Regions from separate parts of the Homo sapiens genome. Here region 1 is linked to region 2. The links come from fine-mapping of genetic effects on gene expression. A gene starts in region 2. The other region holds a variant in brackets. All regions are shown on one strand. Distances are from middle to middle.

The links. PIP is the estimated chance that this variant, and not a neighbour inherited with it, causes the effect.
Region 1: its variant is fine-mapped to the expression of MBTPS1 in tibial nerve (GTEx, PIP above 0.99).

The regions. Positions count from the first base shown.
Region 1 is chr16:84,055,403-84,059,402 of GRCh38, reverse strand. MBTPS1 (membrane bound transcription factor peptidase, site 1) reads left to right here. Exons shown (of 23, transcript NM_003791.4): 21 at 1-101; 22 at 3,268-3,398. Among named protein-coding and RNA genes, the nearest start is that of SLC38A8, 15 kb to the right of the region's middle. RefSeq lists enhancers at 2,977-3,569, 3,570-4,000. The variant T/C (reference allele first, on the strand shown) is at 1,904.
Region 2 is chr16:84,114,684-84,118,683 of GRCh38, reverse strand. It overlaps MBTPS1 (membrane bound transcription factor peptidase, site 1), which reads left to right and starts at 1,742. Exons shown (of 23, transcript NM_003791.4): 1 at 1,742-1,949. MBTPS1-DT (MBTPS1 divergent transcript) reads right to left here and starts at 1,641. Exons shown (of 1, transcript NR_186375.1): 1 at 1-1,641. RefSeq lists an enhancer at 1,012-1,171 and silencers at 1,322-1,421, 1,822-2,251.

The DNA.
Region 1 (4,000 bases), 59 kb after region 2:
GTTCTGGAGGCCCATTTGGGAGACCCAAAACCTCGGCCTCTACCAGCCTGTCCACGCTTGTCTTGGGCCAAGCCACAGCCTTTAAACGAGACGGCGCCCAGGTTAGTGTCCGCCTGTGCCCTTCCACTCTTTCCACGGGGCTTGTGAGTCATTGCTTTTCTTATAGGAGAGAATGGAATTTTACTGACATCACTATCGAATTGTCAGATCTTCAAGCTTGTCATTTGCGACAGTTATTTAGTGAACCTCGTATTGGCCTTTGGAAATAGGCTCTTTGGTGGTATCCTGCATAAAAAGTGCTTTGGATAATTAGCATTTTGTTACATTTGGTTAATTCTTTTTTAAAAAGCTGGGATCCAACAGAGTGATTTCATGGGAGCTGGAGCTCTAAGTCCTGTGGTTGGGGAGTTAAGAGCTGCCGGCTGCAGTGTGTTCCCTGTTTCAGACATTGATGATAAGATACAGATAGTTCCCTTCTTCTGTCATCCCCGGGGGCCGCGGTTGCAGCCTGTCCAAGAAGAGCATGCTTCTGTGTCATTACGTCCTGTGCTGACTGTGACTGGGGGTGAAAGCACCCGCCTCCGATGGCAGGCTGTGACCTCTGCTGCTGTCTCCACACTCCTGTTTGCAGTGCCGCCTGGATCCCTTCTCCAGCTCACTAACTCGGCTTCTTCATTTGCATCGTTTCCTTTCCGTACCCAGTGTTTGAGGTGGACCTGCTGTTTCCCTCTGTGGCTAGGACCAGCTCGGCATGGCTGGTCCCCTTTTTCTCCAGATGCCACCCCCTTACTTTTTCTGTGACGTCCCTGGCCCAAACAGGACAATATAAGAAGAAAGGGGGAGCTTCTCCTGAGAAAGGGGATGAAGCCAGGGACAGCTGTCAGAGCTGTGTCCGTGGCCGGGCAGGCACACCTCCCACCCCATCAAGCAGGAGTCTTGCCCTCCGAGGCCCCCTGGCCGCCTGGTACCCGGCCCCTCTCCCCAGCCCCTCAGGCAGGAGGCTACCCTCTTGACAGGCCCCCTGCCTGCCTTCTTTTCCTCCAGTGATGGTATGGGGCCAGGGACGGAGGCCACCTTCCGTCCTGTAAGGCGAAGAGGAGAGTGCCCGTGTGAAGGTGGCGAGGCTGCCTTCCGCCTTTACTCCTCATCATAAACCGAAAGTGCTGAACACACCACGCACTGACCGTATGTCTTCATTTCGAATATGCTTAATAGAACACAGGAAAATGGTAGAATCATCACATTGTCTCATCAGTAGCTTTCTTCCTGAACCTTAATCACTGGGTACTTTTCCATTCCAGTTCACATCTCATCATTTAAACATTTCTGATAAGTTTCCATTTTTGCATCTTATTTATTTATAACCTTCTATTAGCCTAGCATTCAAACCAGCATTTATATTCCAGCCATGGTCAGCAATTCATACTCAGTGAACAGTGTTAGCTGAATTTCCAGAAACCCAATTATTCTCCACAGTGTTGTTCAGGACTTGAAGCAGATAACAATATCCTTTCTATCCTTGGCTATCTACCTGTTCACATCAAATAATCCATCACATACTGAACCGGCCCATCCAGCATGTTGATAATGGACAGCTCCTGGAATTTGATTTTCACAATCACTCAGTAATTCCTTCTTCTCAGTACGCTGCTGGGTTTTACATTTATCTTGCTTTTCATATCTTGTTGAAAATTATTCTCGGTCCCCAGAGACCTAGATCGACGCATATTCTGAGTCTCCAAAAGAGATTTGAGACCAGGAGACAGCTCCAGATGCTGTCAGCCCAGTGCTGGGGGCAGGCTTCCATCTGTGAAGTGGAGAGGCGCTTTGGGCTTCTTCGTTGGCATCAGGTGCCCATACCTAGGGCAGCTGTGGAAGTGTCAGCGTCCTCCCTGAGAGGAAC[T/C]CCTGCTCCGGTGGCTCCTCAGTCCTTCCGTCAGTATGCTGTAAAGCACCCACATGGTAATGGGTGTGGACTGTTACCATGACTGCTCCACTAGAAAGTGCCATCACCAAAGAATGAGATTCTGGAACAGGATATCACTGTTAGAATGGAAATATAGCCCATAGATATTCAGCTACAAAGTCATAAAGCCTAAATGTCATTGATTCCGTAACTTAACACTGTCAGTTTAACTTTCAGACTGATTAAGCCTGAAGTGTAAAATTAAATCCTATAAAATAGGGCGGGTTATAATGAGTGCTCATTGGCATTCAGGCAGTTGCCGAGCTGGGAGTATCGAGTGGGAGTCTCTCTCTTGCCTGCCTAGGGAACCTCTACTCAGACCAGCCCTTGCCCGCCAGCTTGGCGTTGACTTTCAGCCTAATTGCTGATAGGACTGGACGTCTTTGCTTTCACTTGCCCAAAGTGAAAGAGACAGGCTGACAGTTTCCAAATGAATAAATAACAGAAAAATAGAGAAATTTTAATTTGCAAACTTACTGTATTCTTCCCCCTCACTTAAGCCAGAGTAGTGTTTTTCCCATCGCGCTCTTCGCTCTAGCTCCGGTGTCCTCCCAAGCTCTGTGCTGCTGTTGCCAGCGTATCAACCTCTCTGTCTTCTTCGGGTCTAAGTTGTATTGGCCTGAACGAGTTTTTCAGATCCCAGAGTTAATAATGATACTGTGCACCACAGAGTGCAGGAATCGCACACGTTCATTTGATCGTCCCCCGCCTGCAGGCAAGGCAGATGGGGACCCCACGTTTTGCTGCTCAGACTCTCTCCCACTGTTGGTTCCTTGTATGTTTCGTATTCTCCCTGGAGACAGTGGTTTCTTCAGAGACAAAGATGCTGTCTGGTTCCCGGCACCAGTTTGCCCACTTCCTTATATGCAGTGGTTCTGGAATCACCATTGCCTCCGACTGCTCCAGGCCTTAGGGAGAGGACCTCGATAGCCCCAGGCTCAGGTCCACTCAGCAGGCTTCAGCTCCTCCCCCTGACAGGCTCCTTCCAGGGCCTCGCTTGGAGTGTCCTCCCGAGGCGCTTGGTCATGTTTAGCTTTATGCAAAAACAGGCTCCTGCTGGTCATATTGTAAACTCAGTAGAATCTCATGAACAGGGACTTGATTTTGATCTTTCTCCCTCGGGACGTGGAAACGGCCACCATAGTTGCTGTCAGTGGCATTTAGGTGGCCGTGGACGCAAATGGCATTTCACATCTCCCCGTAGATCACTTGCTCTGTCTTGAGTTTCAGTTGAACTTCCTAGACTAGTACCTAGACTAGTACAATGGCTTATTTTTGTTTTGTTTTAATCCATTTTCCTGAAGTAACCTTTGGAAACATCAGAAGCTACTCTCCATTGACCTGGACAAGGTGGTGTTACCCAACTTTCGATCGAATCGCCCTCAAGTGAGGCCCTTGTCCCCTGGAGAGAGCGGCGCCTGGGACATTCCTGGAGGTGAGTTCTCGGCTGCTTTGTGATTGTGCTCAGTCATCCTGTATTTTGTTCAAAGGAGTCTCCCTCCCTCCCCAGGAGGCGGGCCAGACTCTCCCTGTCTCTGCCTTCCTGGGAGCTGTGGTGGCCTTGGCTCTTGGCTTCTTTTGTGGCACAAACCAGCATGAGCAAGGGCAGGCCTGACAGATTAAGAGATTGTTGTTTCCCTTAGAAAATGCTACCTAGATTTTCACATTTGAATTTATTTTACAACGGCTGGGTGATCTACTTAAACATGTTCAAAGTAACTTGCACGCTCTTTATGAAAGTTCTGCCAGCCACCTATTAACGTCCCTTACAGGATGCCTGTCTGCTGGTTTGGGTCCCAGCCAATGGCAGCAGCCGCCCTGGCTCCCAGCCCTCAGCCCAGAAGGCCCCTTCAGTTCTCTGCCCTGCCCCCCTGGGAGGGACTTGACTGAGCTGGGGTGTGTCCCTTAGGTGGTCTCATCCTGTCTGTCTCTCCAGGGATCCTGACTGGCTACATAGACTGCCTAGGGCAGGTTCTTCTCCACTACCCAAGGCAATTGGTACCAGGCCTTTCCAGCCGAGCCTGGGCAGTTCTTTTG
Region 2 (4,000 bases):
TCAGGAAAGGATTCAAGAATCCACCACCACATATTGAATCATATAGGAGCCGAGCACTTTATGAGTATGCTTTTTGTTTGTTTTTGAGACAAGGTCTTGCTGTGTTGCCCAGGCTGGAGTGCAGTGGCACAATCATGGCTCACTGCAGCCTCGACCTCCTGGGCTCAGGCAGTCCTCCCACCTCAGCCTCCCTAGTAGCTGGGACTGCAGGTGCACACCACCACACCTGGTAAAAACAAAACCAAACACAACTATAGAGACATGTCTCTGTTGCCCAGACTAGTCTCAAACTCCTGGGCTCAAGTGATCCTCCCGCCACAGACTCCCAAAGTGTTGAGATTACAGGCATAAGCCACTGCGCTAGGGCTTATGTGTGTACTTAATTTAACCCTCATCCTTTAAGGTAGATATTAGTACCCCTATTTTTTAAAAAAATTATTTATTTATTTTTAAGGCAGAGTCTCGCTCTGTCGCCCAAGCTGGAGTGCAGTGGTACGATCTCAGCTCACTGCAACCTCCGCCTCCCAGGTTCAAGCGATTCTCTGCCTCAGCCTCCTGAGTTGCTGGGATTACAGTCATGCGCTACCACACTCAGCTAAGTTTTTATATTTTTGGTAGAGCCGGCGTTTCACCCATGTTGACCAGGCTGGTCTGAAACTTCTGACCTCAAGTGATCCGGCTGCCTCGGCCTCCCCAAGTGCTGGGATTACAGGCGCGAGCCACCCCGCCTGGCTAGTACCCCTATTTTTGTAATGAAGAAGCTGAGGTACAAAGAGGTTAAACAACCTGCTCAAAATTACGAAGTAGAAGCCTGAGGTGGGGTATGGTAATTTGTGATTCTACATTTATCCACCATATTAAGTCAACTGTGTTAAATCATGTTGAAGGAAGATGATGCGCTGTGATCTGTAATATTGGTGCAGTTCAGCATTACCGTGGTGCAGTGTCAAGTTCCAAAAGACACAAAACTGTCTGATCGGCCTGTAGCGCATCACCGCCCACCAGCAGTACCTGAAGACGCTTTCAGTCCCCTGCTAGTGCCGTACGGAGTCCGGGCTGGTCCATTTACATTGAAAACAAACTGATCCTAGCATCTAAGTCACCCAGACATCTTTTAGGCGGCAAGCTTTTCAGACAGTTTAACACATTTATTCTTGTTTTTTCAAAAAGAGCAAACACGTGGCGTTACAAAGGTCCTCCGTTTCGCACGCACCGGTGTCCCGGCAGCGCGCTGCGCGTCGGGAGGCCCAGTCTGTCGTCCCGTGGGGCCGGGGGTCAGGAGGTCGGGCAGGCGGGATTTGGGGTTTCGCGTGTTCCGGACCGGACACTTCGCCATCTTAACGAGCTACCGCCCGGGTTAAGGGGCACCCAGGGCAGGTGCCCGGCCGGGGGTGGGGTGTCCGAGCCGCCGGTGCCTGGACGTGGACCCCTGCAGGAAGGGTCCGCGCGGGAAGCGAGCTCTCCACGAGTCCATGACAGCAGGCCCGCGGGGGCAGGGAGCCTGCGCCAGGCAGTCTTTCTAGATCCTGGCCCAGCCTGGCCGCTTTCGCGCCCGTGCTCCTTTTCGGGGATCCTAGAGCGACGCGCAGAGCGGACCAAGGGTTCCCCCAGCGCGTTCTCGCCGCCTGGCAGCTCGCTGGCCACGCCCCTCCGCTTCCACCCTGCCACCGGCCCCCGCCGCCGCAAATGTCGCGAGACCTTCGTCCATCCTCCCGGCGTGGTCCCGCTGCCCACGGCGTCCAGAGCGCGCACGCAAGCCCCGGGAGCGCGGGACAGACAGGGCACGCTGGGTCGGCGGAGCTGAGGCTCCCAGCTGTGGGCCTCGCTGGCCCGGTCGCCCAGTCTCGCGAGAGTTGGGAGTAAACAGCCCCGAATGGAGTGCCCAGGCGTGTTCGCCGCGGAGGCGCCGTTATCCCGGGCCCGCCGGCCCTGAGCTCCCGGCGGCGCAGGTACGTCAGCCGCCCGCGCGCGGCCTCCCCGACCCGCTCCGCCTAGCGGCGGCGGCCCGCTCGCTCAGGTGTGCCGGTTGCGTCCGAGGCCCCGAGGCGAGGGCTGCGGGGGCCGGGCCGGGTCGGGGGAGGTGGGCGCGGGGCCTCCGGCGCTTGTTTGGACACAGCGTGCCTGTACCGCGGCCCTGCGGGGGTCTGCGCGCTCCGGCAGCTTGTTCCGTTGCCTGGTTTTCTTTACGTGAAATGAGCATTCACCGAGTGAAACAATACGCCCTGCTCTGGCCCGGAGCCTCCAGACAGACTCAATTCTAGGTGCGCTTCCGGGGCAGTGCTGGCGTCAGGTTTAAAAGACGTCGATTCTTTGCCTTATCTCGGTCTGTGCATATTGCGCTGCTGGTTTTTGGAAATGCGGGGATTCTGTTCGGCGAACTCTCAGAACCAGATTGCCTTTTAAACCTGTAGCTTCTTAAAAATCTTGCCTCGCCTTGGCATGGTTGCGCTACCTAAGACCGTTGTGGATCGTCAGTATTTTTATTAAGATGTTTACCTTTCATATTGGGTTGAGCCCCTGAGAATCTTGGCCTATTTGTCTACACAAATTAAGTTATTAGATTCTGATTGACACTTCGAAATTACGTGGAGTGGAATACGACCTGCGTTGAATTCTGGAGACTCATCCTTTAGTCTGAACTGTGTAGGTAAGCCCTCCTAACGTCAAGGTCTCCAATTGTATGTCTACGAAAAGGAGGGCTTGCAGAAGAGAAGTAATTCCTCTCATTTTTTTTTTTTTCAATCTGGAGAATCCGCTTTTATTATTTATACTTATTTTTTAATGTAAGAGCTTCATTGAAGTAGAATTTACATACCATAAAATCCACCTGTTTTAAGTGTACTATTCAGTGGTTTTTAGTAAATTTACAGCAGCACAGCCACTACCAAATCCACTTTTAGAACATTTCCGTTACCCCAAGACCTCTGATGCCCAGTTGTAGTCAATGCCCATTTCCAGGCCCCGCCACAGGCAACCTTTCATCTACTTTGTCTTTCTAGATTTGCCTTTAATGACTATTTCGTATATTCAGATGGAAACATATGATATGCGGCCTTTTGTGTCAGGCTTCTTTCACTTAGCATGTTTTCACAGTTCATCCATGTTGTAGCATGAATCAGGATTTCATTCCTTTTATGACCAAATAATATTCAGTTGTATGGCTATACCACATTTTGTTTAAGCATTTATGCAGAACACTTTTGACAAATAAAAGTTTATTTTATGCTCTAATGTGTGATGCGGATGACAGCAAAACTGTTGATTGAGAATGGGAGCTGGGACCTGACCCAGACACGTGTCAAACGACTGCACTCCCCAGGCACCCCGTATAATCAAGAGTTGGTCCTTTCTATATAAAAAGGGAAAATTCCAATGCAGAGCTTGCGGAACCTTTGAAGCACCTAGGGAAGAAGTGGGAGCTCTTCTAGTCAGGAGGTTAACAAGAACTAGGAAGGCTGGGCCGGGCGCGGTGGCTCACGCCTGTAATCCCACAATTTGGGAGGCCGAGGCGGGCGGATCACAAGGTCAGGTGTTCAAGACCAGCCTGGCCAACGTGGTGAAATCCCGTCTCTACTGAAAATACAAAAATTAGCTGGGCGCAATGGCAGGCGCCTGTAATCCCAGCTACTCGGGAGGCTGAGGCAGGAGAATCCCTTGAACCCAGGCGGCAGAGGTTGTAGTGAGCCAAGATCACGCCGCTGCATTCCAGCCTGGGCGACAGAGTGAGACTATGTCTCAAAAAACAAAAAACAAAAAAAAACTTGGAAGACTGAAGGCTAAGGTGAACTGTACATTGCTGCCATCAGTGCTGCGGAATTCTGCTTGAGGAAACGCTTTATTTATTTTTATTTTTTTGAGACAGAGTCTCGCTCTGTCGCCCAGGCTGGAGTGCAGTGGTGGATCTCGGCTCACTGCAACTTCTGCCTCCCGGGTTCAAGCGATTCTCCTGCCTCAGCCTCCCGAGTAGCCGGGACTGCAGGTGCCCGCCACCACACCCGGC